Linked DNA regions of Homo sapiens. The main gene of each other region encodes a partner of the protein of the gene in region 2 in a complex. Each region holds a gene or a part of one and is shown on either strand. Other genes may lie near its edges. The genes, in order: NSMCE2, NSMCE4A and NSMCE1.

Region 1 (9,800 bases), on a different chromosome or scaffold from region 2:
GATCATGCCACTGCACCCAGCCTGGGTCACAGAGTGATACTCTGTCTCCAAAAAAAAAAAAAAAAGAGGGAGGATTCTGGGTTGTTAAATGGCATGCTTTCTTGCTCTTTCTCTTTTTTTTTTTTTTTTTTTTGAGACTGAGTTTCCCTCTTTTTGCCCAGGCTGGAGTGCAATGGCGTGATCTCAGCTTACCACAACCTCCGTCTCCCAGGTTCAAGTGATTCTCCTGCCTCAGCCTCCTGAATAGCTGGTATTACAGGCATGCACCACCACGCCCAGCTAATTTTGTATTTTTAGTAGAGATGGGGTTTCTCCATGTTGGCCAGGCTGGTCTCAAACTCCCGAGCTCAGGTGATCTGCCCGCTTCGGCCTCCCAAAGTGTTGGGATTACAGGCATGAGCCATCGCGCCCAGCCATGGCATGCTTTCATTAGTTTCCTTATCCATAAATGAATGACAATCGTTGTAATCACCTCATTGGCATATTTGAAATTTAAATAAGATACATGCAAAGTACTTAAAGTAGCTGGTACACAGTAGGGCTCAGTAAAATTATCCCATCATCATCTTCAAACTTGAGCCACTATCAACATCCTCTTCGTTTTTTTCCACCATTGCTCTATAGGCATGGGAGACGAGGACAGTTTTAAAGGAGTAAGATGAGCCAACCTGGAGTTTAGGAAGTTACTCCAATAGCAATGCAGAGATGGATTAAGGAGGCATGAGGCAAAAAAAAGTCAGTTAGGATGCTTTTACAGTGGTTTAAGTTATAGAAAATTAGAGTATAGAGATACAAGAGTGATTGTGGAGGTACAGTTAACGACATTTGACGACTGACTGAATGTAAGAGAAAGGAAGAAGCAGCGAGGGGTGGCTGACATTTCTCATCTGGGTGTCTAATACTGTCATTTGCTCATTAGCCTCCAGAGAAGGCATGAGAGAGGAACACTCTTATTGGAGGATTGTGATAGACTCAGCTCAGGTCATCCTAAATGCAAGGTCCCAGCAATACAGCCCCGTGGAAGTGTCCAGGAAGTGCAGCAAGTGTGAGTTTTGCAGTCAGGGGAGGACTCAGAACTATCGATGTGGATTGGGAGGTTATCAGTATAGACGAGTCAACCCGCTCAACTACCGTCACAGATGCAGCTCTGGAACAAATGCATTCACCAGCAGAGAGCCAGCAAGGCAGGACCCGCACCTCGCCTGTGATCTCCACAAGGCCAGAGCCCGACTTCGTTCTGCTCACTGTGATGCCTTAGCACCCTGGTGCCAACCCTCAAAAAACACTTTGTTGACCAATGAGAGGATCAATCAGCGGAAGAAGACCCCTAAAAAAGCAGTCTAAAATATAGCCAGGAGCCAGGAAGAGTGATAAGGAGTGGAGGCTCATGGGAACTTGTGGGCGGGGTGGGCAGGGTTCTGAAGGCCAGGTGCATTTGGGCAGCAGTAGATTAGAACTCAGGGCCTTCTTGAAACCAACTCCAGAAGTTTCTGATGAAGCATGAAGTCGTATCATTTCCCATGATGCACATTAGAGTGATGAGTATTTCTGGGTTCGCTTTGTTTAGAAATGTCCATGACACATTGTCTCATTTCTTCCTCCTAGATTGTTCTAGTTATGTTTGTTTTTTTAGACTGGAGTTCCAGGTCCATTGTGTTCTGGGCACTGCCTGAATTTTACTGTGCAAGCTTCAGGCCCTGGGAAGGCCTCTCTGCACTGGCTTGAGTCAGAATAATATTGTTGAGACTTTAGCCCCAGCCAAGCACGGTAGTTAGAATAATTTCCTAAAATATATCTGTTAACAATAAGCCTATTTATTCTCTTAAAAATAAAGCTGCCTTATGATTTCCTTTTTTTTTTTTTCGTTTCTTTTTTCTTTTCCTTTTTTTTTTGAGACAGAGTCTCACTCTGTCTCCCAGGCTGGAGTACAACCTCTGCCTCCCAGGTTCAAGCAATTCTCGTGCCTCAGCCTCCCAAGTAGCTGTGATTACAGGCACATGCCATCACACCTGGCTAATTTTTGTATTTTTAGTAGAGACAGGGTTTCACCATGTTGTCCAGGCTGGTCTCGAACTCCTGGCCTCAAGTGATCTGCCCACCTTGGCCTCCCAACCTTATGATTTTCATATATTAATATTTCTAACCTGACCACAGTCACTTTTTTGCTTTTTTGTTTGAGAACAGGAAACATATTTTTAAAAGTCATATTTAAGAGCATGTAGAATAAAATGAAATTGAATAGAAATGGGTCATTCGACAGCAGAACTCCAGCTTTGTGCTTGGAATTCCTGTTTCAACACTTACCAACAAGCCATTCAACCTTTCTGCCTCAGTTTCCTCATCTGTAAAGTGGAAATAACATCAGCATCTCACAGCACTTCAGGGGCCAAAGAAATGGTAGGGAATTCCATTCTAGGTCTGGACCAGCACATTTCTTGGCAGAAGAGTAGCAAAAGCACTTAGTTGAAAGCTCTTTTGGGAGCGAAGAGCGCTAAACAAATAGCTGTAGGGTTGTTAAGACCGAGGCTGATAGAGTTGTTATCACTCCCCGTGCTGCTTAGTGACACATTATTTGACTCAGGGGTTGTAAGATAGAATTACTGTCTGTGTTGAGGTATGACAGGAATCCCTCCCACTCAGATTTCCAGAGGTCTCTATAGACCTTCTGTCTATAGCTTGTAGACTAAACCTTGGAATTCTTGGGACCCAGATCCAGGAACTCCCAGAATCATGTACTTTTGAGCATTTGCAGAGGCCAAGGTTCCCCACAGCTCTGTGGGACCCCAAGACCCGGTTCCCTTTGCTCAGCAGTCACCTTTGTGTTTGCCCTGTGCTGCAGCGAAATGCTCTGCCCGGGTAGTGCCTGGAGGTGGGGACCCAGCCGCTCCTGCGAGGCCTGAAGGGCTGACTCCTGCACAGCGATGATGCGGCAGCTGAAGATCGGGTATTGCCACACTGAACTCGCTCACCAAGATGTCGTGGGATTAATGCCGAATGCTTACGGAGACAGTTGTTTCTCCAGAGGAGGCATGCCTTGATTCAGCACTGTGGCATGATGGCCTTCTCTTATCCTTTCTGCTTTAAAAACTTGTGTTTATTGGAGACGAAGGAGAAACAAGGTCCTTCCCAGTTCCAGCATCAACCTCGCCTCCAGGAAGTCTTCCCTGAGCCCTTATTCATGCTGGACAAAATGTCGTTAGCACCCCATGTCATGCCAACATTGTCAGTGCAGCTGGCTCCTCTCCACGAGCTTCTTGAGAGCGGAAGCTGTGGACTAGGGCAGGGACTGGTGCACGGCAGGACCTGAAGTGAACTCCCCAGTCCTTGACACACATCAGCCTGCTTATTTCTCAGCCTTATTGGACAGGCTTGTCCTCTGCCTTCATGTTCTTAAAGGGAAAAACTGAGGCACAGAGAATTTAGTCACTTACCCAGAGTGACACAGCCAGGGGGTTTAAGCCCAGGTCTTTCTCATTCTTGAGCCTGCAATTCTGTCAGTAGGCCATCCAGCTCCCCTTGGGAGGGCTATTTGGTTCATGCCTCTACCATCAGAGTCTATCTCCTCAGTGAACTCAGACCTTGTTTGACATGGCTCACTCTGGGATCCATCCCACTGAAGTGAAGGTGGGCGCCTGCTCTGCAGCTGAGTGTGTGGTTAAGTCCATCAGACATTCTCAGCATGCTCTCATGCACTGACTAAAACCATGATGTCATCAGGAAGTCCTCCCCACCTCACTCTCCACTTCCCTCTCCACTGCTTATTCACTGTCTGGCTATGAAAGTTAAGGCCTTTGCTGGGTAGAATGGAAGAGACCAAGGCCAGGCAGTCCAAAGCAGATATTCAGGGTTATGTTTTAAGGGAGGGTCATCCCAGCAACCTACTTGGAGTTGCATTTCAATGTCATGGAAGCCAAAGTTATGATACTTGGCTTTTCTAGTCACAAAAGTGTCTGTATCCTCTTCATGATCTTAGCTGCTTTTTTTCATACTTACAGACATAATTCACCAGGCACGGTGGCTCATGCCTGTAATCCCAGCACTTTGGGAGGCCAAGGCAGGTGGATCACTTGAGCTCAGGAGTTCAGGACCAGCCTGGGAAACATGGTGAAACTCTGTCTCTACCAAAAATTTTTTAAAAATTAGCCAGGCGTGATATTGTGCACCTGTGGGCCCAGCTACTCAGGAGGCTGAGGTGGGAGGATTGCTTGAGCCTCAGAGGCAGAGGTCACAGTAAGCAGAGATAGTGCCACTCCAGTCTGGGTGACAGAATGAGACCCTGTCAAAAAAAGAAAGAGGAAAGAGGAGAGAAAGAAAGAAAGAAAGAAAGAGAGAGAGAGAGAGAGAGGGAGGGAGGGGGAGGAGGGAGGGAGGGAAGGAAGGAGAAAGGAGGAGGGGGAGGGAAGGAAAGAAGGAAGGAAGAAGAGAGGAGGAGGAAGGAGAAGAGAGGAGGGCGGGGAGGGAGGGAAGGAAGGAAGGCAGGAAGGAAGGAAGAAAGGAAGGAGAATTCGCTTTGAGACTTCACAGCGTAGGGGGACAGGCTGGGAAAAAAATACAGATTTTTAAACTAGTGTAAAACATTTCTCCAGCCTTGCCCTAATGCAAAGCCAAATCATCAAAATGATGCATACCTGGGCCAAATCACCCTGATCCTCTTTCATATAATTGCCTTTCTGTAATTATGATTTAACACATCATGTACCTGAGTATGTAGGGCACTTTTTTTTTGTTTGTTTTGTTTTGTTTTGAGACAGAGTCTTGCTCTGTTGCCCAGGCTGGAGTGCAATGGTGCAATCTTGGCTCACCGCAACCCCCACCTCCTGGATTCAAGTGATTTTCCTGCCTCAGCCTCACGAGTAGCTGGGATTACAGGCATGCGCCACCACGCCTGGCTAATTTTTGTATTTTTAGTAAAGATAGGGTTTCGCCATGTTGGCCAGGCTGGTCTCAAACTCCTGACCTCATGTGATCCACCTGCCTCGGCCTCCCAAAGTGCTGAAATTACAGGTGTGAGCCACCGTGCCTGGCCATATTTTAATATTTTAAAAATAAATACTGTTATTAAGCATATTATATTTCATTGATTAATACCCCTCTAATGTAAAAACTCCTTGATCCACAGATCAGGGCCAAGAAATACTTTCTTTCATGTTGGACTGTTGGGCTTCCTACCACTAGACAAATTGGAGCTCCCATGACCAACTTTCTTTCCTTCTGGTTTGCATCTTTACTGTGGTTTGCACATTTGTTGTTTTTGGTCTTAATATCCTGTGCTTTATGGAGAGCTGTCTCAGATCACTGGGCCAGAGCTCTGTGTGGGCAGGAACCATGTATTTGTATTTCACAGTTGCATGCTTAGAACCTAGCATAGGGCTGATCCCTAGAAGAGTCAATTAATGCATGAATGGGTGCATGCCTGTGTGGGATATATGCAAGATAGAAATAGATCCAGAACTTTAAAACTTCTTGGAAGAATGATGATGAGGGAACACATGATAGTCACAGGGGATCTGGAAGGGAATTAACATTATTGAGCACAGAGGATCTGGGAGGGAATTAACAGTATTGACTGTCACCTTGGGAAATAAGGGTTCTCTCCCCATTTTAACTCAGAGGCAAGGGAGGCTCAAGAGGGTTATTGTGAATTGCCTGTGGTCTCATAACTAGCAAGTAGGTGGTAGAGAGAAAATTCAGACCTAGGTTAGCTTGACTCCAAACATTGGGCCTCTAATCTACCAAAATTTGGTTCACTTTGAGAACCAGATTCTTTGAGAAGAAATAGGTGGTTTCATCCAGCCCACTGCCCTCAGAGAAGACCACATCGAAGCAGAGCCGTGGCTTGTTTCCACCCCTTTGTGGGTGACTCACTGATGTCTTTAGCTGCAGCCTTTCCACCGAGTCCCAGTGGCCCACTCAGTCTCTCTTCTAGGAGGGCTACTGGGCATCCATTCCAGAGGAAACAGATACCAACCAGGACTGTGGTTCTGTGCTGCAGCCTGTTTTGCCCCATCGTTTCCCACTGTGATGAAGGGCACTACCAGTCACTGATCTACCCAGATGAAGCTCGCTTCTTCCCTTTCGCTTATGCTCCACAGCCACTCCATCGGCAAGTCCTATAGGTTCTATGGTCAAGCATGTCCTGAAGCTGATCGCCATACCACCCTCAGCCGAGCTGCCCTCACCTCTCTCCTGCACCCTGCAGGATCCCCCATGCTATTTTCCCTGCCCTTCTCTTACCTCCCTGTTTTGTATTCTCCATAAGCAGCCAGAGTAACATTTTCCAGATGTAAACCAAACACACTCCTCACCCATCTCAAAACCTTCCAGTGTTTTGTCTTCATATTTAAAATAAAATCCAAGTCCAGGCACGGTGGCTCATGCCTGTAATCCCAGCACTTTGGGAGGCCGAGGCAGGTGGATCACTTGAGGTCAGGAGTTCGAGACCAGCCTGGCCAACATGGTGAAACCCCATCTCTACTAAAAATACACAAAATTAGCCAGGCATGGTGGCAGGCGCCTGTAATCCCAGCTACTCAGGAGGCTGATGCAGGAGAATTGCTTGAACCCAGGAGGCGGAAGTTGCAGTGAGCTGAGATCACGCCACTGCACCCCAGCCTGGGTGAAAGAGTGAGACTCCATCTCAAAATAAATAAATTAATTAAATTAAATAAACTCCAAAGCCCCATTGGCGCACTGACCTCACTTCCAACTGCTCTCCCTCTTGCCTGGGTCGCTGCAGCCACATAGAGCTTGCTGTCACTCCAGGGCACCAAGCTGGAACGTCCTCAGCACTGCACTTGCTACTGCCTCAGCCCAGACCACATGCAGACTTGTTCCCACGCTTCATTCTGGGTCCTGCCCTAGATAAGATGTGTTCGGTGAGGCATGCCCTGAGTCCAGCCAGTGAAGCTGTGGCCCCAGCACTCTCTCTCCCTGACCCTGCTTTGTTGCCCTCATAGCCCATAAGGTGACCTGAACTTGCAGCAAGCATTTATTTGGTTCCCTAGTGGTTGCCTGTCTTCCTCATTAGAAAGATAGCTCATAGGCTGGGCGCGGTGGCTCACGCCGGTAATCCCAGCACTTTGGGAGGCCGAGGCGGGCGGATCACGAGGTCAGGAGATCGAGACCATCCTGGCTAACACGGTGAAACCCTGACTCTATTAAAAATACCAAAAATTAGCCGGGCGTGGTGGTGGGTGCCTGTAGTCCCAGCTACTCGGGAGGCTGAGGCAGGAGAATGGTGTGAACCCGGGAGGCGGAGCTTGCAGTGAGCCAGGATCGTGCCACTGCACTCCAGACTCCGTCTCAGAAAAAAAAAAGAAAGTTAGCTCATGATAAGGCAGGCACTACTCACATATCGCTTGTGTCCCCAGCACCCAGACAGGGCCTGGCTCAGGTAGGGACTCAGTGAATAAATGAATGAGCACAGCTTGGTCCTGATTTTGACACTTTTCCTTTTTCAGTAAAATGCCTTACTTAAACACTTGAGTATAAAAGAAGTTTCTGCTTAAGGCAGTAAAGGGGACTGACTTGATGTTCTTTCTTTCTCACAGTTGCCCTCAAATTGGCTGTAGCCACACGGATATAAGAAAGTCAGATCTTATCCAGGATGAAGCACTTAGAAGGGCAATTGAGAACCATAACAAGAAAAGACATCGTCATTCCGAGTAGGAAAAGCCACCTGCCTGCAGGGACACCAGCAGCCTACCTCCTACCCCAGCTGTCTGTTGAGAGCAGTGCTGACCCCAGCAGTTAGGGACTGGCTGCATAGCATACTTGTTGGGGGTAAAACTTGTTGCTTTTATGTGTGCTTGAAAACATTTTTCAAAGTTACACAACAGAAATGCAATCATATTGTTTATTTTTAAGTGTTCTATAATGTTAAATAAAACTTTGATCATCTGCAGTGTCCTCCCTGCATGCCTCCTGATGTATGGATTGTTCCAGAGGTGCAGGCTTTTCCATTTCAAGGACATCAGACTGATTTTTATAATAGTTTTGACTAAAGAATGTCTTTCAGCCAGGTGCAGTGGCTCATGCCTGTAATCCCAGCACTTTGGGAAGCCGACGTGGGCAGATCACTTGAGGTCAGGAGTTCAAGACCAGCCGGGGCAACATGGTGAAACTCCGTCTCTACCAAAAATCCAGAAATTATCCAGGTGTGGTGGTGCGCACCTGTAATCCTAGCTACTCGGGAGGCTGAGGCAGGAGAATCACTTGAACCCAGGAGGCAGAGGTTGCAGTGAGCCGAGATCGCACCACTGCACTCCAGCCTGGGCGACAGAGCAAGCCTCTAAAAAAAAAAAAAAAAAAAAAAAAAAAAAAAAAAAAAAGAATGTCTTTCAAGTGATATTTGAAATTGAAACATATAAAAACACCCCTATTGGGAGGCATTTTCTATGAGTATAGTAAATAATAGCATTTGGTTATAAAGCAAAGTCAGTTTACTTTCTTGTATTTACATTGTATATTGACAGTTCCAAACATATAAATGCTTTTATTGTCATTCTGAATGGAATAGAATGCTCCAGTGACTGGCTAATCAGTGCATTGCAGTGATGATTGATGCCTATAATGAATACTTTGCTGCAGCCCTCCAAGAGCCTAAAGTACCATCAACAGTAACCACATTCCAGCTGCTCTCTGTTTTTCTAGATGGTTCACTGCAAGTGACTTCATCCCTCTGGATGTTGGTGTCTTCAGCCATAAAGTGAAGGTGTTCAACAAGATGCTCTCTAATGTCTCTAATCAACAAGATGCTCCCTAATGTCCTGTGACCCCTGAGAGTCTATGGACTGACACCAGCAGGGTCTTTAAATTGAATGTCTTCAATTATATTCTAATTGTGTGATGAGCACCAATCTATTGTCTCCATTAGCAACCTTTTATCAACCTTACTATTTAATTAAACCAAATTTGAAGCATACCCTGATGGCACTGGAAAACCAAGAATAGCTAATAATAGCTAACATTTATTGAGTACTTATTTACTGTATACCAGGTGCTATTCTAAGTGCTTTACATTATATTAACTCCTATAATCTTCATAGCCCAGTGAGAGAAGGACAGTTCTTACAGATAAGGAAAAGTAGGCACAGAGAAGCGAAGTCACCCATGGAAAGTCAGAGATGGAACTAGGAAATGGCTGAGCTGGGACCAGAATCTGGAGAGCCCAGTCCTAAAATCTCCATTCTTAACTCCATACTCTCCTCCTCCCTATTGACATAATTTAGAAAATGAAAATATATTCGAAGCCCACATTTAGAACCAAAGCTTTTGTAAATAAGTGTGTGTGTGTGTGTGTGTGTGTGTGTGTGTGTGTGTGTGTGTGTACAAAAAGTCTAATTAAAATGGAGGCCTATGCAGGAGGATCACTCGAGCCCAGGAGTTTGAGACCAGCCTGGGCAAGATGGCAAGACCTCATCTCTATTAAAAAAGAAATAAGGCCGGGCACAGTGGTTCACACCTGTAATTTCAGCACTTTGGGAGGCCAAGGTGGGTGGATCATCTGAGGTCAAGAGTTCAAGACCAATTTGGCCAACATGGCAAAACCTCATCTCTACTAAAAATACAAAATTGGCCGGGCACAGTGGCTCAAGCCTGTAATCTCAGCACTTTGGGAGGCCGAGGTGGGCAGATCACGAGGTCAGGAGTTCAAGACCAGCCTTGCCAACATGGTGAAACCCTGTCTCTACTAAAAATGCAAAAATTAGCCTTGGTGTGAGCCTGTAATCCCAGCTACTCAGGAAGCTGACATATGAAAATTGCTTGAACCTGGGAGGCAGAGGTTGCAGTGAGCCAAG
Region 2 (10,342 bases):
GCATCTCCATCTTTCTTGGTCCTGCTCTGCCCAGGGACTGGCCTATAGACTGCATCACACAGGTTCTCTTGCCCTCTGACATCCCGTTGGCCTCAGCCAATGAGAGGTAAAAGCAGGAGAGGAGAGGTTGGAAGGATGAGATCAGGGTATTTCTGCCCTGATTTCCTCTTTGCTTAGTATTGTTGTCCTGGCATGGTGCAAACTCTAGAACCAGAACTCCTGTCTGGTTGCCCCTTCTCCATGGCTTCAGTCTTCATGGGGCTCTGATAACACTGCTTCTTCCTTCAGACCCTCTAGGCCTTGGAGTAGTAATATCTTCCCATGGTTGCTCATCCTGGGTACCTGGATTTGTTTCCTATGGCTGCTGTAACAAATTATCCCAAATTTGCCTACAGTTCATCTTTTTTTATCTTTTGGTTGCTGATGCTTTTGGTGTCATATCTAAAAAAAAAACTATCACCTAACCCAAGGCCACAAAGATTTACAGCTATGTGTTCTTCTAAGAGTTTTATAGTATTAGCTTACATTTAGGTCCAATCCATTCTGTGTTAATGTTTATATATGATGTGAAGGAAGGGTCTAGCTTCACTCCTTTGCCTACAGATATCCAATTGTCCCACTACCATTTGTTGAAAAGACTATTATTTTCCTATTGTCTTGGCACCCTGGTTGAAAATCAGTTAATCAGCTGGGTGTGGTGGTGCATGCCTGTAATCCCAGCACTTTGGGAGGCTGAGGCGGGCGGGTCACGAGGTGAAGAGATCGAGACCATCCTGGCCAACAGGGTGAAACTCTGTCTCTACTAAAAATACAAAAATTAGCTGGGCATGGTGGCACGCGCCTGAGGTCCCAGCTACTCAGGAGGCTGAGGCAAGAGAATTACTTGAACCTGGGAGGCGGTGGTTGCAGTGAGCCAAGACTGTGCCACTGCACTCCAGCCTGGCAGCAGAGAGAGACTCTGCCTCGAAAAAAAAAGAAAAGAAAAGAAAATCAGTTAACCATAAATGATATGTCTGGACTTTCAATTCCATTCCTTTGATCTATATGTCTATCCTTATGACAATACCACACAGTTTTGATTATACAGCTTTGTATTAAGTCTTGAAATTAAGAAGTCTGAATCCTGCCAAATTTGTCCTTCTTTTTCAAGATTGTTTTGGCTATTCTGGGTCCCTTGCATTTCCATATAATTTTTTTTTTTTTTAAACAAGGTCTTGCTCTGTCATCCATGCTGGAGTGCAGTGGCATGATCATAGCTCACTGCAGCATCAAATTCCTGGGCTCAAGCGATCATCCTGTTTCTACCTCCTGAGTCAGTGGGACTGTAGGTGTGCACCACCATGCCTGGCTAATGTTGATTTATATATACTTTGTAGAGACAGGGTCTTGCTTTGTTGTCCAAGTTAGTGTCAAACTCCTGGCCTCTAGTGATCCACCTGCCTTGGCCTCCCAAAGTGCAGGGATTACAGGTATGAGCCACCACACCTGGCTCCCCACATGAATTTTAGAATCAGTTTAATGCCTGTCTTCTGGTGATACCCTGGAAGGCAAAGGCAAGTACCTGAATTATCTGTGTGCCCTGCTGTGCTTTGTAGGGTGTCTAGCCTATGAGTACACCTCAAATATTTTTATTTATTTATTTATTTAGAGATGGAGTCTCACTCTGTCACCAGGCTGGAGTGCAGTGGTGCACCATCTTGGCTCACTGCAACCTCCGCCTCCCCGGTTCAAGCAATTCTCCTGCCTCAGCCTCCTGAGTAGCTGAGACTACAGGCGCACGTCACCATGCCCAGCTAATTTTTTGTATTTTTAGTAGAGATGGGGTTTCACCATGTTGGCCAGGATGGTCTCGATCTCTTGACCTCATGATCCACCCTCCTCGGCCTCCCAAAGTGCTGGGATTACAGGCATGAGTCACCGCGCCCGGCCCTCCCTCAAATACTTTTGAATTGAATGAGTTATTTCAGGGTTTTTTTGTTGTTGTTGTCATTGTTTGTTTTTTGAGATGGAGTTTTGCTCCTGTCACCCAGGCTGGAGTGCAGTGGCATGATCTCGGCTCACTGCAAACTTCGCCTCCCAGGTTCAAGTGATTCTCCTGCCTTAGCCTCCTGAGTAGCTGGGATTACAGGCGCCCACCACCACGCCTGGCTAATTTTTCGTATTTTTAGTACAGACGGGGGTTTCATCATGTTGGCCAGGCTGGTCTTGAACTCCTGACCTTGGGTGATCCACCCACCTTGGCCTCCCACAGTGCAGGGATTACAGGCGTGAGCCACTGCACCTGGCCTATTTCAGGTATTTTTGTGTGGAGCTTGGAATGAACTTTTGAGAGGTGACAGCGTGCTGGCAGCCCTCGCTCGCTCTTGGCACCTCCTCGGCCTCAGCGCCCACTCTGGCCGGCTTAAGGAGCCCTTCAGCCCGCCGCTGCGCTGTGGGAGCCACTTCCTGGGACCGAGGCCAGAGCCGGCTCTCTCAGCCTGCGGGGAGGTGTGGAGGGAGAGGCACGGGGGGAACCGGGGCTGCACGCTGTGCTTGCGGGCCAGCTAGAGTTCCCTGTGGGCGTGGGCTTGGCAGGCCCGCACTCGGGAGTGGCCGGCTGCCCTGGGCAGTGAGGGGCTTAGCACCTGGGCCCGCAGCTGTGGTGGGTTCGCGGGGTCCCCCAACAGTGCCAGCCCACCAGCGCTGTGCTCCATTTCTCGGCGGGCCTTAGCTGCCTCCCCGCAGGGCAGGACTCAGGACCTGCAACCCGCCATGCCTGAGCCTCCCCCTGCCACCGTGGGCTCCAGCGTGGCCCGAGCCTCCCCGATGAGCGCCGCCCCCTGCTCCAGGGTGCCCGATCCCATCAACTGCCCAAAGGCTGAGAAGTGGGGTGCAGGGCGAGGGACTGGCAGGCAGCTCCACCAGCCACCCTGGTGCGGGATCCACTGGGTGAAGCCAGCTGGGCTCCTGAGTCTAGCGGGGACTTGGAGAACCTTTATGTCTAGCTAAGAGATTGTGAATACACCAATCAGCACTCTGTATCTAGCTCAAGCTTTGTAAATGCACCAATCAGCACTCTGTGTCTAGCTCAAGGTTTGTAAATGCACCAATCTGCGCTCTGTGTCTAGCTGATTTGGTGGGGACTTGGCGAACGTTTATGTCTAGCTAAGGGATTGTAAATACACCAATCGGCACTCTGTATCTAGCTCAAGGTTTGTAAATGCACCAATCAGCACTCTGTGTCTAGCTCAGGGTTTGTAAATACACCAATCAGCACTCTGTATCTAGCTAATCTAGTGGACAGGTGGAGAACTTTTGTGTCTAGCTCAGGGATTGTAAACGCACCAATCAGCACCCTGTCAAAATGGACCAATCAGCTCTCTGTAAAACAGACCCATCGGCTCTCTGTAAAATTGACCAATCAGCAGGATGTGGGTGGGGCCAGATAAGAGAATAAAAGCAGGCTGCCCTAGCCAGTAGTAGTAACCCACTCAGCTCACTTTGCACACTGTGGAAGCTTTATTTTTTCGCTCTTTGCAATAAATCTTGCTGCTGTTCACGCTTTGGGTCTGCACTGCTTTTATGAGTTGTAACACTCACTGTGAAGGTCTGCAGCTTCATTTCTGAGGCCAGCAATACCACAAACCCACCGGGAGGAACGAACAACTCCAGACACGCCGCATTAAGAGCTGTAACACTCACCGTGAAGGTCTGCAGCTTCACTCCTGAGCGAGTGAGACCACGAACCCACCAGAAAGAAGAAACTGCGAACACATCTGAACATCATAAGGAAAAAACTCCGGACACATCACCTTTAAGAACTGTAACACTCACTGCGAGGGTCCGCGGCTTCATTCCTGAAGTCAGTGAGACCAAGAACCCACCAATTCTGGACACACTTTCACCTGGAAGAACGCTAAGTATTCCATTACAGAACACTGAGCTACAAGCAACAACTATGAAACAATGACCTGGTTTAAACCATGATTTATGGCTTACTTTACAGGGAGTCTGGAGGCATGTGGTTGATTCAGCAATTCAGCCATGTCCATCTTTGCTCTCCAGTGTCTCCAGCACTCTAGTCTTTCCTCATGCTTGTCACCTCGTGAGTACCAGATGCTGCCAATATGGCAGGCTCCACATTTTTTCTTTCAGACGTTGTTTCATTCTTGTCACCCAGGCTGGAGTGCAATGGCGCGATCTCTGCTCACTGCAACCTCCACCTCCCAGCTTCAAGCAGTTCTCTTGCCTCAGCCTCCCGATTAGCTGGGATTACAGACACGCACCATTATGCCCGCTAATTGGCAGGTTCCCCATTTCTTATGCCAGCCATCTCAAAGGGGGTAGGGGGTCAAGGGTTTTCTTTTCAGGAAGGTTTGTATTCCATCCAGTTGGGAAACCCTTTCACATCTCACGGACCCAGGTTGCATCACATGACCCTTGACCAGTCACTGGGGAAGGGGAATGACATTACCGTGACCTGGTTAGAGTGATCACGTTTCATCTAAGGAAGTAGGCACACACGTCCCCTTCAGGAAATACAGATAAGCAGGGATGGGTGAGGTAGTAGCTGTTGGACAGCAATGAACAGTGCCTAACTTAAGTTTAGTAGACATGATGCACAAAATGGAATATTTGTAGGTTGTGTAATAACCCAACTTATAATATTGGTCTTTTGAGAAAATGTGTTCTTAGCACCAAAGACAACTTTTGGGAAACAATACTCGAATACAATCCAAAATGCACGGAGTGAAATTCATACATTTATCTTTCAAAGTATACTTAACATAATTCCATCTTTCTTGGGCCCTTCAGGAGGTATTCTTAGAATCTTCTAGTTTGAGAATCAGAATCAGGCTGTGCCTGGTGGCCCATGCTTGTAATCCCAGTACTTAGGGAGGCCGAGGTGGGCGGATCACTTGAGGTCAGGAGATGGGGTTGCAGTGAGCCAAGATAGTGCCACTGTACTCCAGCCTCGGCAGAGCAAGGTCTTAAAAAAAAAAAAAAAATCAAATGTGAACATAGACTGTCATTAAAATCAACCCAACAATCCCATAGACTGTTTACTATTTTTTTAATAAACTTAGAAATTATCATTTCTAGTCTTAAGGTTGAAACTTACCTTTGTTTTATCTGAGTTCCTTCCTCAGGAAAGGACCTCCAGAGCCTCTCAAAAAGTATCAAAAAACTGAAACTCGCCATATCACCGCATTCCAGACAATGAGATGCCAAGCCCCTCATGCATCCCCATAGCTTCCTTCCCCCTCCCGAGTTCCTCTTTTCCCATACATTGTTACATTGCTTCCCTGCAACTGTATAAACCCTTAATTTTAGTTGGTCAGGGCAATGGATTTGAGACTGAGCTTCCAACTCCCTGAGTGCAGCACCCTACTAAAGCCTTCTTCCTTGGTAATAATGGTTTTCTCAGTGATTTCTGTGAGGGGGCAGCGGGTCCTAGAACAAAACCCTGGTGCTCTGGTGACATTCTGTTGTAGATATTTAGAAGGATGTTTACCTGTTAATTTGTTCTGCTATCCTCACAAAAAATGGTATTGCCAGCTGCACATAAATATTTGATTCATCCACCCACCCCTGTTCCCCACCCCCCCGACCCCAGCCATGATGGCACAGGGAAACTGAGGTCGCAGGTGAGCAGCAGACCGCGTCTGGACTCCACATCCCGCGCTCATCCTGCTCCACAGCAGGAAGCTCGTTCAACACACATGGACTGCGTGCCCATGTGGGTGCCAGGCTGCGGCTGTGTCCTGGGCAGGCAAAGGGACCTAGGGAAGATGCAGGTCCAGGAGGGTGGGAAAGTAGGGGCAGAAAACCAAGATTCTCACAGCCCTGCAGTGTGGAGTAAGAGCTCATTACACCTCTTGTCAAGGGAACAAAGGATCCCCGCCAGGCCCCTCTTGTGCACCCAGCGGTCCCCCCAGGCGCCTTGGAGACCCGGCCGGGCCCGTCGCCGGCCTCCAGCCACAGGCGTCGCTGTGCGCTCGCGCGGGCCCGGGAGCCGCGTTCCGCCGGGAGCAGGCGCTGGCGCAGAGCAGGGGTTTCAGTTTCTGGCGCGAACTTCCGCCGTTCCGAAGTTGCACGGTGAATTGGCGCTATGTCTGGGGACAGCAGCGGCCGCGGGCCAGAGGGCCGGGGCCGGGGCCGCGACCCGCATCGGGATCGCACCCGCTCCCGCTCCCGCTCGCGGTCCCCTTTGTCGCCCAGGTCCCGCCGCGGCTCTGCGCGGGAGCGCAGAGAGGCCCCAGAGCGCCCGAGCCTGGAGGACACAGAGCCGTCGGATTCCGGGGACGAGATGATGGACCCGGCCAGCTTGGAGGCGGAGGCCGACCAAGGCCTGTGCCGCCAGATCCGCCATCAGTACCGGGCGCTCATCAACTCCGTCCAACGTAAGGCGGCGCCTCCGGGCGGCGCGGGCCCGGACGGGCCGCTGTCCCCGCCCTGCGCCGGGCGCGGGGGGAGGGCACCGGAGGCAGGTGCCGGGCGGAGGCCCGGCGCGGCGTTAGTAGAGACGCGCCGGGTGCCAGCCCCTCGCCGCACCTTAAATTGTTGACAAAGTGCTCCCACTTTGTGGCTGGAGCCGTACGACCTTGGCGCGGGTCCCCGAGTGGCGGGCTGGAAAAGCTGGAGGCCAGAGCCGTTCGCGGACTCGCCCGAGCCCAGCCAGCCAGTGGGGAGAGGCAGGACGCGGACTCCGCGTGCTTTGATTGCGCCCGGCAGTCCTCGGCGTGGGCTCCCGGCCTCGCAGCGGCAGCTGCAGCTGCAGCGGCACGCGAGAGCTGTCAAATGCACGTTCTCGGACCCCACCCGGACCCGCGGAATTCGAATCTCTGGGTGGGTCCGCGCAACTGTGGAGTGGCCCTCCAGGTGATGGTGTGTATTGCTTGCAAAGTTTGAGAACCACTCAGTTATGGAGCACTCAGAGGCTGCAGCCGGAGTCCAGCCCTTTGGGTTAAGGTTAGAGGGAGCTAGGGTTTCCTTTTAAAATTCATGCTGCATAAAGGGTAGGGTGGCCTTTCTCCTTTTCCGGGTCATTTTGGTTAAAAAGATAAAGATGTTCGAAGTAATTACTCAGAGCGCAGGGGCCGGGGCTTGGCTTTACTGTTGCAGGTGATAACCTTGTCAACTGCTTATTAGTGAATGCTGAACAAATTTCCCAAAGTTTGTATTTTTAAAAATAGAAAACCGTGAGGACATACTGAATGCCGGTGACAAATTAACAGAGGTCCTTGAAGAGGCTAACACTCTGTTTAATGAAGGTAATTTGTTATTTTATATGTTATTTCGTGTTTTATGATACTTTTAATTAGTGTTACATAAGCGCCAAATTATTGACATAAAACAATTCCCACATTTGTAATAGTGCTTTCCCAGTTCGGGAACCGTTTCATTATAGCAATAATGCCATTTTTATTATGCACTTACCATATAATAAGGGCTTTACATGAAAATTTGGGGGTAGGTTCCGCAGTCTGTGTTAAGCCCCCAGTTGATTCTGTTGCCTCTTCAAGTTTGAGAACGTTACATGTGTTATCTTGTTTCTTTTTCTTGTGTTTACTGCCGTATCCCTAGTATACATTGGTTGAGTGGATGAATTACAGAACTGAGCTAGCCTCTGAAATCCTGTTTCTTTTCCTGTCCCATTCTGTTTTGCCTTCCTCAGCTCCCTGCTATTGGTCCACGTGTAACACAATGGAGGTGGCAAAGCCTGCAAGTGTACCTGCTGGTCTCCAGTCTGGGGTGTGTTGTGTGTGAGTGAGTGAGTGAGAGAGATCCCAGAGCACTGAACTCTAGGCCATGGGTGCTTTAAAAAATAACCTTAGTTTGAATTGAAAGCAGAGGCAGTGGTATTGGTAGCAGCTGTCTGTCTGCTTGGTGACAGAGGGGTACTCCCTGATGTGGGTACTTGGTCATAGAGCCACAGGACTACTACCCAGACCACTGTCCCCTCCAGCCCTCTCTGACGGGTCTGTGGGAACATAGGGGAGAATGCAGCCAAATATATCCTTTTTTTTTTTTTTTTTGAGGTTTGAGATGGAGTCTCTGTTGCCCAGGCTGGAGTGCAGTAGCACAATCTCGGCTCACTGCAACCTCCACCTCCCAGGTTCAAGCAATTCTCCTACCTCAGCGTCCCGAGTAGCTGGGATTACAGGTGTGCTCCATCACACCCAGCTAATTTTTGTATTTTTAGTAGAGACGGGTTTCGCCATGTTGGCCAGGCTGGTCTCGAACTCCTGACCTCAGGTAATCCACCTGCCTCCGCCTCCCACAGTGCTGGGATTACAGGCATGAGCCACCGCCCCCGGCTGGTTCCTCATATTCTTAAAGGACTAGAACGTATATTTTTAGTCATTGCTGAGGATGACTAGTTCTTTAAATGTCTCCTTTTATCACTTTATATATGCTCTCCAATTTCTTTGACCACAGCCTCCTTACCATTCCCCATCTTAGTCTACCGCATTTGCTAACTCTCATCAAAACCTTCAGGAACCGGGTGTTTCTCCTTCACCTGGTTAAATCCCTCTACTACCCTCTTAAGTTTTGTCTTCCCTTCGCAGCCTGGACTCCCAGTCTCCTTACTGTTAGTCTTGCTTGACTTGACTCAATTACTCCCTTGATATTTACTGTGCATCTAGTCAGTTCTTTATCCCCACATCATTCCCCCCTCAGCTATTTCCAGTATTTAAAGCAATATTTTAGAGCAAAATTATTCACTCATTGGAGCCCTAGGAGTTGCTCAGCAAACAACAGATGCTGGCATTCATGGATTTGATGGTCTCAGTTTGTAAAATAAATAAATAAATGAAAGGGGAAGGGAGTGGGGCAGGCAGGCACAGGATACTCATGGGAGATAAAGAAGGGATCAACAAAAGGAAACAGCGGGGCTGAGGGGGTTGCTTAATCAGACCCTGCAGGCAACAGAGAGTATGAAAAATAGTCTGGGAACACCTACACCTGTCGCCCAGGCTGGAGTGCAGTGGCATGATCTTGGCTCACTGCAACCTCTGCCCCCCCCAGGTTAAAGCTATTCTCCAGCTTCAGCCACCCGAGTAGCTGGGATTACAGGTGTGCACCACCATGCCCAGCTAATTTTTGATTCTTTAGTAGAGATGGGGTTTCACCACGTTGCCCAGGCTGGTCTCAAACTTTGGAGCTCAAAGTGATCCGCCTGCCTCGGCTTCCCAAAGTGTAGGGATTACAGGCATGAGCTGCTGTGCCCAGCCTGTTTCTGCATTAATTTAAATCTTTTTTTTCCATAGCTTTTCTTAAATCCCATGTCCTCTGTCAAGCCTTTTTTGAGTATCCGTCCTCGGGTCACTACCTGCTACCTGTAGACTGTTCATTTGGGTGGCTTTGCTGGGGTTGCCTGTGAAGCCATACAGAGGCATGAGCCTCCTAGTGCCAGCCTAGCACATGCCATGATTTTGGTTAGCAACTTTAGCAACTTACCTATTGCTTAGCAGCTTACCTATTGCTGTTCACAAACCACCATGCCAAGCACAGGGCCCTACATGTAGTGGGAATTTGATTTTCCTTACGTCAGCACACATGATCATCGTGATTAGGATGGAGGGAAAAGTGAGTATTAGACATGACGGGTTTTGCTCAACTGGAGTTATTTAAGAGATTGTGATTCAGCTAACAGTAGGAGAACTAGACAGAAAGCTGGCTTTTAGGAAGACTGGTCAGCTTTCATTAGAGATTTTGGTGAGTTGGGCACAGGAGAAAGTTTTTTTTTGTTTTTGTTTTTGTTTTGAGACAGCCTCTTGCTCTGACACCCAGGCTGGAGTGCAGTGGCGCGATCTTGGCTTACTGCAAGCTCTGCCTCCCGGGTTCACGCCATTCTGCCTCAGCCTCCCAAGTAGCTGGGACTACAGGCGCCCGCCACCACGCCCTGCTAATTTTTTGTATTTTTAGTAGAGCTGGGGTTTCACCGTGTTAGCCAGGATGGTCTCGATCTCCTGACCTCGTGATCCGCCCGCCTTGGCCTCCCAAAGTGCTGGGATTACAGGCTTGAGCCACCGCACCTGGCCAGGAGCACGTTTTAGAAGGAGATGTGTCAGTTGCCTATTGAGATTTTTTTTTTTTTTTAGTCCAGTGGGAAATCCTGGTAAGTAGTTGGAAATGTAGGGAAAAAGTCTATGGATAATGTGTATTTTGTAATGTGAATATTTTCTTTCTTTTTTGAATAGTGTCCCGAGCAAGAGAAGCAGTCCTGGATGCCCACTTTCTTGTTTTGGCTTCAGATTTGGGCAAAGAGAAAGCAAAGCAGCTGCGCTCAGACCTGAGCTCCTTTGACATGTTAAGATATGTTGAAACTCTAGTAAGTTCAAAGCTACAGACTCTG
Region 3 (10,039 bases), on a different chromosome or scaffold from region 2:
TCAGGGGAGAGACCAGGGGCAGAGCTGTGGACATTAGCTGTCCTGAAGACCTGAGGCTGGGAAGCAGCGATCTGGTGCAACCTTAGCGCTTAGTGGACATCATAAGGATCTTGGGAGCAAGCAAGAGACCCCAGTTCTGGTCAACTTAGAAAGGAATGTGTCGGGGCTGGGCACGGTGGCTCACGCCTGTAATCCCAAAACTTGGGGAGACAGGTGGGCAGATCACTTGAGGTCAGGAGTTTGAGACCAGACCAGCCAACATAGTGAAATCCCATCTCTACTAAAAATACAAAAAATTAGCCAGGTGTGGTGGTGAAACACCTGTAGTCCCAGTGCCTGGGGAGGCTGAGGCAGGAGGATCGCTTGAACCTGGGAGGTGGAGGTTGCTGTGAGCTGAGACTGTGCCACTGCACTCCAGCCTGGGCAATGGAGTGACACTCCATCTCAAAAAAAAAAAAAAATGTGTCGGGATGCTATTGGGGGAGGGACACATAGGACTCATTGGTGGCCAGGTGCACAGTTGGGGATAGGCAGGAAGCATGGCATCACCTCATGGCCAGAGCAGCTGGCCCTCTGTAGCTTCTGGGCTGGAGCCACCTCCAAGCTTCCTTTTGTCCCTTGCTCAGATTGGGAGAGTGTCTGGCTGATAGGGGTTCTCTGTCTACTCCTGGCTGCCCTAATCTCTGGTCCCTTCAGCTTTCTGCTTTCTGGTTCCCTGAATATCATACCTGGAATTATTCTCTCACCAAAACCGCAAATGTAAGAGAAAGACAATTGTAAAAAAAAAAAAAGAAAAAAGGCGAAGGTCTCGTTAGGGAGGGACATGGCTGCTGGGCTGGCAGGTGTCACCAGCTGACTCCTGTCTTGGGGCGGCGGCTGGACACAGTAACTGGAGTGCCACGTGATGAGGAAGGAAGTGCTGCCATGGGAGGACAGAGCTGGGAAGTGCAGCTTATCTGGTTGGGGAAGGCCTGTACGGGAGGCTGCCAGAGGATCAGGAGGCTGGGGTCCAGCCAGGGGTGGTGGTAGAGAAGCGGGAGGGAAGAGGGTTCTGGACATGTGTGAGGCTGGAGGCGAGACTGTGTGTGGCTGTTAGAGATGAGAAGTGGGGGAGAGGCTCACGCAGGGCCCCACAGAGCGGGAGGGCAGGATGGGCTAGAGCCCACACCTCTGCTTCTGGCCCCATGCCACCACGCCACCTCTGTTGCTGCTGAAAGGAGTCAGTTGAAGGGTTTGGGGGTGCTGAGTGTAAGAGAAGTTTCTTCTCAGGTCACGATTAAGAGGAGCTGCAAGGGCGCGGGGCCTCCGTGAGAAACAGTTACAGGGTCAGCGATGGAGATCGTGGACATGACCCTGATGCAGGAAGCGTGTGGAAGGAAAGAGGGCGATAGCGGAGAGAACGGGAGCGCCCAAGCAGTGGCTGGTGTGTGCAGTGAGCGAGTACAGTAGGAGGAAGTGGTTGGTCAGATGAAAATACAGCAAAACATTCATGGTTTCTGAAAAATGAGGCTGGACGCCAAACCAGAGGTGGTGTGGAGAGGGGAAGGGCAGAGAGGGCTGCTGGCTCCCTCCCTGCAACGGGGTGTCTGGAAAGTCCAATAGATCAGAATGCTTCTCATCTGCCCACAGGGCACATTGTTCTCAGTGATACCCAGGAGGGGCCTCGTTAGTGGAAAATGTGAATTGTCACTTTCAGAGAGGTGGGACTTGCCCCAGTGTCACACTGGGTGGACAGGGTTCCTGTCACTCACTCCGCACTGAACGAGGCTTTTTGATGTCTGGGCCTCTTGCACCTGAGCTGCCCAGCGTTGGCTCCCCTTGGGGGTGGAAAAGTGTGTCTGGCCAAGTCACTGGCACAGGCAGGTACGGAACAGCTCGGCTCCCACGCCAGCAAAGAGCTGCCTTGCATGCTGTGGAAGAGGAAGACAGCACCGGGGGCAGAAGAGAACATTTCCTGGAAAAACAGGCCATCCAAGGTGGCTGCCGCAGTGGAGGGAGAGGAGTTTTCAGAAAGGAGGGGCCCGTGAGCAGGGGCATGGAGGCAGGAAGTCAGGCCATGCCTCCCTCCTGATGCCTGCTCTCCAGCCGCCGAGGCCAGATGTCATTGTCATATGTTACGATCTCACCACATCCATGTTCCACCCACTTACTATGACTACTTTTTAATTTAAACTGCCTTTTAAAAACTTAACTGAAAGGGAAGATTAGCTCCTCGCTGAGCATGGCACATTAGTGTCACTGCCCTGGGCTTTGTTCTCAGCTTTTCTGGGCCCCACAGTCTGATCCTCTGACAGAGCTCATTGGCCTGGGTTTTCCTTGACTCTTTCACACGGCCACATCCTCCATTGTCACCAGCATGATCTTCTGTTGTTTTTTTTTTTAACTTTATGAATCTTGAGTTGTACGGGTAGCTTAGAAATGCCTCTGTCTAATAAGAAATCAAACACAGACATACAGCACGAGTGCCCTGTGATGACCCTTCGTTTAGTCCCTTCCTGGCGATGGCCTTGGTCGTCAGTCCAGTGGGTAACCTGCTGGGCCTTTTCCTGTGGGACTGTTTCATTGGTTCTGTTTTTGTTTCACACATGAATGTATCATATTGTCCATTTTTTCTTGCAGTTTTTTTTCCAGAATGATTTTCTAAGGCATGAATCTTTTGAAATTATTTATTTTAATACATAAAAACAGTAGTGAAAACAATAATACATACTCTTGCTTTAAAAAGTTTCACAGCACAAGCTGGGCGTGGTGGCTCACGCCTATAATCCCAGCACTTTGGGAAGCTGAGGTGGGCGGAACACTTGAGGTCAGGAGATCGAGACCAGCCTGGCCAACATGGTAAAACCCCATCTCTACTAAAAATACAAAAATTAGCTGGGTGTGGTGGTGCATGCCTGTAATCTCAACTCCTCGGGAGGCTAAGGCAGGAGAACTGCTTGAACCCGGGAGGTGGAGGTTGCAGTGAGCCAAGACTGTGCTACTGCACTCCAGCCAGGGCGAGAGCAAGACTCTGTCTCAAAAAAAAAAAAAAAAAAAAAAAAGTTTCACAGCATAAAAGGGACACAACGCTGGCCATGTCCTTCCACTGCTTCCAGTGCTCAGAGGCTTCCTGGTGCCACAGGAGAAAGGCCCTGCTGTCCCCGGCCACGGGCTCCTGTCCTCACCGCAGCCTCTCTGTCCTCCTCAGCTGAGCCCCCGGCAATAGTGTGGGTGCCCCCTCCTCAGACTGATGGACCTGGATGGTGGCCCCTGGGCTGTGAGCATCCTGCTGGCAGGGCCAGGGGAGGTGGGCGACAGAGAAGTCAAAGCCCCGGCCTTGTGGTGCAACTCTGGGCGAGTCAGTTCACCTCTCTGCGTCTCAGCCTCTTCCCCTGTGCCCAGAGAGCTGCTGGAGGGTGGATTCATGACGACAAAAGGTGCCCAGGACAGGGCCTCTCCATGCTGAGGGCTCGCTGCAAGCCACCCTTCTCACCCCGTTTGTTGTTATTCTTACTGTTCCAGCCCAGGACCCAGCACAAGCCTGGCATGTAAGTGAGGATAACCCGACATTGAATAAAAAGAGAAAGGAATAAAGCTCCACCTAAGATGTGTGGGGACATACAGGGACAGAGGCCTCTCGCGGGGCACTGGGGATGCGATAGAAGGGCTGAGATGGGATAGGATGTTTGTGCGGCGGGAGCTCACGCAGGCTCTGAGCACATCATTGAGTAATGCGCTGAAGGTGCTGATTGGGACTCTCATCAGGAGGCAGCGAGCAAAGACAGGAAGCCCGCGGCAGCCTCCGTGGTTGCAGATAGCATCTCCCTGGCCCTCCTGCCTCACAACGCCCTCCATCTGTTGTCTGTTTGTCTTCCAAGTACTCCAGGAAGAAAGAAGCCACGTGGCATTGGCGTTCACCCAAGAGGCTGCAGCCTCCACCCATGTCTGGGGTTGCTGTCCCCTGCGTTGAGATGGGATGGAATGATTCAAGCAAGCTACATTTTTTTGATGAGGCCCCCTGGTCACCCCCCTTTTTTTGGTCTGTTTATTTCCAGGCAATGCCACCGTAGATAAGTTGGAGGACTTCATCAACAACATTAACAGTGTCTTGGAGTCCTTGTATATTGAGATAAAGAGAGGAGTCACGGAAGATGATGGGAGACCCATTTATGCGTTGGTGAGTGCCCGGCAGAGCCCTCTAGTGGCATTTTTGAGGAGCTGGAACAGGGCCCAGGCAGCCTGTGTTTGCTTTGGTTTGATTTCTCTTTTGGACAGTTCTTTGCAAAGAAGTCACTCCAAATGTATAGAATATTAGGAATAAAGGGAGAAAATGGTTTTTTATTTAGAATAAGACATAGAAGCTATGAAAAGAAACTCTGTAGGAGTGTCAAGGATTGCAGGCCATGTGGGTGGGGCCTTCAGTGGTTTTCAGATTTACTCTCACAGGTAGGGATTTGGGCCTCATCCCTCCTGCCGCCGACTCCCCGTTCACCCACGTGATGTGTTCAGGATGCCACAGCCAGAATGGCAGAGCCAGGAGTGAAATACAGCCAGGGTGAAATACAGGAGTGGGAAGCTGACATGCCCCATCCCTGGCTAGGAGACACCTCAGCTGGTCAGAGGACATCTGGCTGCTCCCAGCCAGGCTCACACTCAGAAAGGGGCACTCTAGTCCAGGGTTGCCCAAACTCAATTCCCTGGAAAAAAAACATTACAGAGTCAAAGAACTGTGGAAATGCTGGTCAGACATGGCAAAGCAGATTTCCTTGCTATCAGACTTCTCAGTGCTTTTTTTGCATTTGAAGCTCCATTAACATGCAGACAAATCTCCCAAATTTATCTGAGTTTGGAAAATACTGCACACCCTTTGGAGTTCTGAAACTTCTGAGGGCCCAGCATGTTGGCTGAGCTAAAGAATAAAGTCTGTAATATACGCCTGGTTACAGATCCATCCCTGCGGCCCGCAGTGCCTGGATACAGGAGCTCAGTGACTGGCCAGAGATGGAGGAGGGGAGGGAGGGAGAGCCAGCGACACGTTAACCAACACGCAAAGAGCACAGCCTGACTGTCGTGCTGACTTATTTCTTAGGTGAATCTTGCTACAACTTCAATTTCCAAAATGGCTACGGATTTTGCAGAGAATGAACTGGATTTGTTTAGAAAGGCTGTAAGTAGAGTAATCCCCATTGCCCATTGGGTGGGCTTCTTATGGGAAAGTTCTGTCTCCGTCATTAGCAGTGGCAACTGCAGTGTTCAAGGATCACTGGGGGGACATGGGCCACCATTGCTGTCTGAGAAAAGGCTTTGCAGGGAGATGTCACTGTCTACCCATCTGGAACTCACAGCTGCCAGGGGGTCCCCATGGCTGCCTGAGAAGGAAGTGCTGGGCCAGGTGTGAGCCCCAACTGGATGGGCAAGAGCAGGGCTTCACTGGTAGTAACAGGCGTTCCTGCCTGGCTGCTCCAAGTGCCATCTGGGAAAGGCAGCAGCAGCAGCATCGCCTGGGAGCTTGTTAGAAAGGCCCGGTCCCAGTCCCCACTCTAGACTGCTGAGTCCGAATCTGCATTTTTGCCAGGTGCCCACTGAATCCTTTGCACGTGCACATTTGACAGGTACTGTTCTACCAGGCTTCAGAGCTATTTGCTCAGCCTTCTGCTCAAACACATGGCTAAGAGTGGTTCTCAGGCCTAGATGCAATGATAATAACTGCAGAGGTGAAAAATAATTCAGACATTTCAGCCCCACTCACGATCTGTTGAATCCAAATCTCTGAGAACCAGGCGGTGGAATCATTCCTTTTAGATCTTCTCCTGGGGATTATTAGCCACCAAGGTTGAGGAGCAGGTGCTGAGCTGAGCACACACCTGCGTGTGCAGGAACCTGTCTTCCCCAGCGGTTCCTGCCTGCCGTGTCTCTCTCTCACTGCCTCCGAGGCCAGCCGTGAGGCAAGGCGACCCTCTTTGATTTGGGGACATTAAGATGATTTATTTGGGAGGATGTTATAGAAGTGACCTCTGAGTCAAAAGAACTGAGCACAGTCCTGGCTCTTGATGCACATTAAATTGTTTTCCCGGAATACCATGCCAGTGTACAGTTCTGCCTGTGATCTGAGTGGTTTTACTGTGCCTCTGCCAGACTTGGTATTACCATTTAAAAGTTATTTTTGCCATTTTAATAGATGAGCATGATACCTGCTCTTTCTTCCAGCTGGAACTGATTATTGACTCAGAAACCGGCTTTGCGTCTTCCACAAACATATTGAACCTGGTTGATCAACTTAAAGGCAAGAAGATGAGGAAGAAGGAAGCGGAGCAGGTGCTGCAGAAGTTTGTTCAAAACAAGTGGCTGATTGAGGTACTGTCTCATGGTTTTTCCAGCCTGGTTCACTTTTTCAAGTGAATAACAGTTTTTTCTCCAAAATCGTACTTGTAGCCAACTGATGTCTGAGGAGCCCGGCCTTCTCGGATCCCTTATCTGCTTTCATGCATTCCAGCAGTGACCCCGTGGGGAGGACTTGGGCCTCACTCCTCCTGCCTCCCACTCCCCGTTCACCCAGATGATGTGTTCAGGATGCCACAGCCAGAATGGCAGAGCCAGGAGCCGCGCCCAGGGACTTGGGCCCCAGGATCAAGGCTCTAGCCCACAGACTGCAAGGCAGGGCAGTTCCGTGGCTGAGAGTGTGGCTCTAACATCTAACCCGGGTCTGAACCCTGAGCCAGGTGACCTCATGTTCCTTGTAAGAGGGGAGTCGTTGTTTCCCCTTCGGGGCTGGGTGTGTCAGGAGCGGGAATGGGACCTCACAGTAATGTGCTCGGTGCTAGGCTGGCTGGCTCGCGGGGGAGGCGGCAGAGGAATTGGTGACATTACCACTGTTGTTTTTGTCAGCAGTGAGTTCCTCAGGGCCAGTGCTTAGAAGAGGCATAGACCTGCTTCAGGAAAGGAGCTGTGACATCTGGGACAGGCCCCACTGCAGCTCCAGTTTCTAGATGTTGCCCCCACCCCCACGTCTAGTCCTGCTGAATGGAGCAGAACAAATGTTTCAGTTCTTTTTCCACAAAAGGCACCCCTGTTTTCAACAGCTCAGTGTTTGCCGAGTTGACCACAGCTGTGCCTCCCAGGTGCTTGTGCCCATGTGTGTTGAGGACGCACTCACGCCGGGTCCCCGCTTCCTCACTTGGTGGTCGGACTCGTGGCCAGAGGCTGCTGCTTGTGGCTGCAGCGATTCTCCGCTTCCTTTTCAGGAAGGCTCGCGTCTGGGTTGGGGAAGTCTGTGTTCTGAGTTACTGATTTCTATTTAGGGTGGGCCTGTCCCAGGAACCTGACCCGAATTCAGTTCCTGGGGTACCTGATGGGAAGACAGGGTGGAGAGGTCATGGGGTGAGGGCAGGGCTGGGAGCTCCTGGTGAGTGCAGGATCTGCTGGGCGCGTTCCCGTATGTCATGTCTTGGAGGCTGTCTGCTGCCCTGCAGTGGCTCCATAGCTTAGTTTTTAGCTGACAGCTCAGGGGTCTGGATGACGTCGGACACCCTGAGAGTGGCAGGGCCGAGTTCAGGCCCCGGTTTGGGGACTGCAGCTCCCATCAATGGCTTTGTCACAGTTGTTCTTGCCCTCCAGGCTGTATTTGGCACTAGGGAATGTTCTAGGGCTACTCAGGTTATAACTGACCATTCTCGCTTGTGGTGCAGCCCCTCTTCAGGCCAATTTTTTTTTTTTTTTTAAGATGGAGTTTTGCTCTTGTTGCCCAGGCTGGAGTGCAATGGTGCAATCTTGGCTCACCGCAACCTCAACCTCCCGGATTCAAGCGATTCTCCTGCCTCAGCCTCCCAAGTAGCTGGAATCACAAGCATGCGCCATCACACCCGGCTAATTTTTCTATTTTTAGTAGAGACGGGGTTCCTCCATGTTGACCAGGCTGGTCTCGAACTCCTGACCTCAGGTGATCCGCCTGCCTCAGCCTCCCAAAGTGCTGGGATGACAGGCGTGAGCCAGCGTGCCCGGCCACAGGCCAAGTTTTTTAAGGGTAGGGGTTATGACCTCTTCATGGCTGGTCCCCATTGCAGAATGTAGTGCCTGGCACCTCAACTGCTCAATAAATGCTTGCTGAATGGATGACTGGACAGGTGGATGAGGTTGCAGAGGAACAGCATTTAAAACTTACAAAAAATGTTACAGGAAATATCTGCTCATTACAGGAGGATTAGAACATGTTGAGATGCATAAAGAAACCCACTGAAGTCACCTGTTATCCCAGACCCTAGAGCCGAGTGCCCCAACATCCCAGTACACAACACTTTGCACCCTGCTTTGCACCCAAGAGCACCATGCCTAGCACATGCTGCCACCATTGTGCATGGCTTGCAGGGCGTGCCCCCAGCTTTATGGTTTGACTTGCCCTTTGTCTGCCCTTGGTGTCTGGAGAGGGCGGTGGTGGATAGGAGAGGCCCCGCCCTGGAGTCTGTGGCGGTGAGCTGTGGCTGCAGGCGCTTGTACTCTGTGCCTTTCTCAGTTCGGTGGCAGTGCTGGCACCACCTTCTGCAGGGCGCCTCTGAGCTCGAGGGAGGGTGGACAGAGGATCCGGGAGCTGCCACCTGCAGGAGCGCTGCAGAAGTAGCAGGGGGCCCTCAGCACTGGCGCTGGGCAGTAGCCCTAGAGAGGCTTCTTGTTGACTGCCTGGCCTGCTGGGGCCCTCAGGAGGACGAAGGAACGAAGCTAATGTGGCAGGGGCTGTGTGGTGAGACTCCTCCAGGTTCCTCCGCTGCCTGTGGTGAGCAGCTTCTCGTTGCGGAGACTGTTTCCTCATCTGCAGGATGGGGACATTGCCAGCTCCAGGTGTTTTCTGTGAGGGTCCAGTGCTCTCTGACCTACATGGCCTGGTAAGGGTTGCCTTGAGGTCTGCGGCACTCTGGAGGAATCACTGAGAACCGGGGCGGGTGCTCACTTACCCAGGACAGGTCTTCCTAGGGCAGCACCTCGATCAGAGAGACCACATGTCAGTGTCTGATCCTTGGCCTCTCAGACACAGGGCTTCCCACAGAAATAGCCAGGGGCCCACTGACAAGGCCCTTCCAGGTGGGTATATCACCCCAAGGACACGTCACTCCTGGACAGCCAGTCCTGTGTGAGACTGGCCCGGCATGGAGGTGCTGAGGCAGCTGTCCGTCCAGGAGAAGGCCCAGGGGTGGTAGGTGGTTGGGGTCAGCGGGGAGGCCTCTGAGAGCAAGCGCGGCTCATGGGAGCTGGGCGTCTGCTGATCGGCGCACCTCCATACACCCCAGGACTGCTCCCTACACGAGGTCCTGACTTCCAAGTGTTGTGGCGAGGCGCCTGGGAGATCACCTGGGCTGTCGTCGTCTTTGAGGGCTAGGGCATCCCTCCTGCCCCTCCCCTGATGGGCCCTCAGAGGACTGAGTGGGTCATGAATGGTGAGCCTTGGGTGCAGTTTCAGGCACATAGCAGGTGTTCAGTAAATGCAGCTTGGCTGGGTGCAGTGGCTCAAACCTGTAATTCCAGCATTTTGGGAGGCCAAGGCGGGTAGATCACTTGAAGTCAGGAGTTTGAGACCAGCCTGGCCGATATGGTGAAACCCTGTCTCTACTAAAAATATAAAAAAGTTAGCTGGGTGTGGTGGCGGGCATCTGTAATCCCAGGTACTCGGGAAGCTGAGGCAGAAGAATCGCTTGAACCCTGGAAGCAGAGGTTGCAGTGAGCTGAGATCGTGCCATTGCATGATCTAGCCTGGGCAACAAGAGCGAAACTCTGTCTCAAATAAATAAATAAAAAATAAATGCAGCTCCTGCCTCAGTCTGAGCTTGAACTTGCTTAGTGTCAGGCATTCCTTTGGGATCAGTGCAAGGTCTACTTCATCTTCCCGTGGGTGTTTATCACAGGCCTGCCAAGTGCTGGGCCCCACAGCAGGTGCTGCGGACACAGGAGTGAGCACAGCCAGAGCTGGTGGCCGCTCCCATGGGGCCATGGTCTGGAGGGGGAGCCCGAGATCAGTGAGACGGTCATCTCACTGCAGTCCTGGTACAGATGGAAAGGAAACATGGCTTTATGACAG

The links.
Region 1: NSMCE4A (region 2) and NSMCE2 share a complex: the UniProt entries of both Homo sapiens proteins name them as parts of the SMC5-SMC6 complex.
Region 3: NSMCE4A (region 2) and NSMCE1 share a complex: the UniProt entries of both Homo sapiens proteins name them as parts of the SMC5-SMC6 complex.

The regions. Positions count from the first base shown.
Region 1 is NC_000008.11:125,359,218-125,369,017, forward strand, and holds the end of NSMCE2 (E3 SUMO-protein ligase NSE2), read left to right. Parts: intron 1-2,839; coding exon of another isoform or gene 2,840-2,900; exon of another isoform or gene 2,901-4,337; intron 4,338-7,550; coding exon 7,551-7,668; 3' UTR 7,669-7,903; downstream 7,904-9,800. UniProt on the Homo sapiens protein: E3 SUMO-protein ligase component of the SMC5-SMC6 complex, a complex involved in DNA double-strand break repair by homologous recombination. Is not be required for the stability of the complex.
Region 2 is NC_000010.11:121,970,915-121,981,256, reverse strand, and holds the start of NSMCE4A (non-structural maintenance of chromosomes element 4 homolog A), read left to right. Parts: upstream 1-6,039; 5' UTR 6,040-6,091; coding exon 6,092-6,383; exon of another isoform or gene 6,384-6,390; intron 6,391-6,451; exon of another isoform or gene 6,452-6,951; intron 6,952-7,175; coding exon 7,176-7,253; intron 7,254-7,427; exon of another isoform or gene 7,428-7,734; intron 7,735-10,187; coding exon 10,188-10,318; intron 10,319-10,342. UniProt on the Homo sapiens protein: Component of the SMC5-SMC6 complex, a complex involved in DNA double-strand breaks by homologous recombination. The complex may promote sister chromatid homologous recombination by recruiting the SMC1-SMC3 cohesin complex to double-strand breaks.
Region 3 is NC_000016.10:27,229,295-27,239,333, reverse strand, and holds part of NSMCE1 (non-structural maintenance of chromosomes element 1 homolog), read left to right. Parts: intron 1-4,034; coding exon 4,035-4,156; intron 4,157-5,068; coding exon 5,069-5,146; intron 5,147-6,186; coding exon 6,187-6,333; intron 6,334-10,039. UniProt on the Homo sapiens protein: RING-type zinc finger-containing E3 ubiquitin ligase that assembles with melanoma antigen protein (MAGE) to catalyze the direct transfer of ubiquitin from E2 ubiquitin-conjugating enzyme to a specific substrate.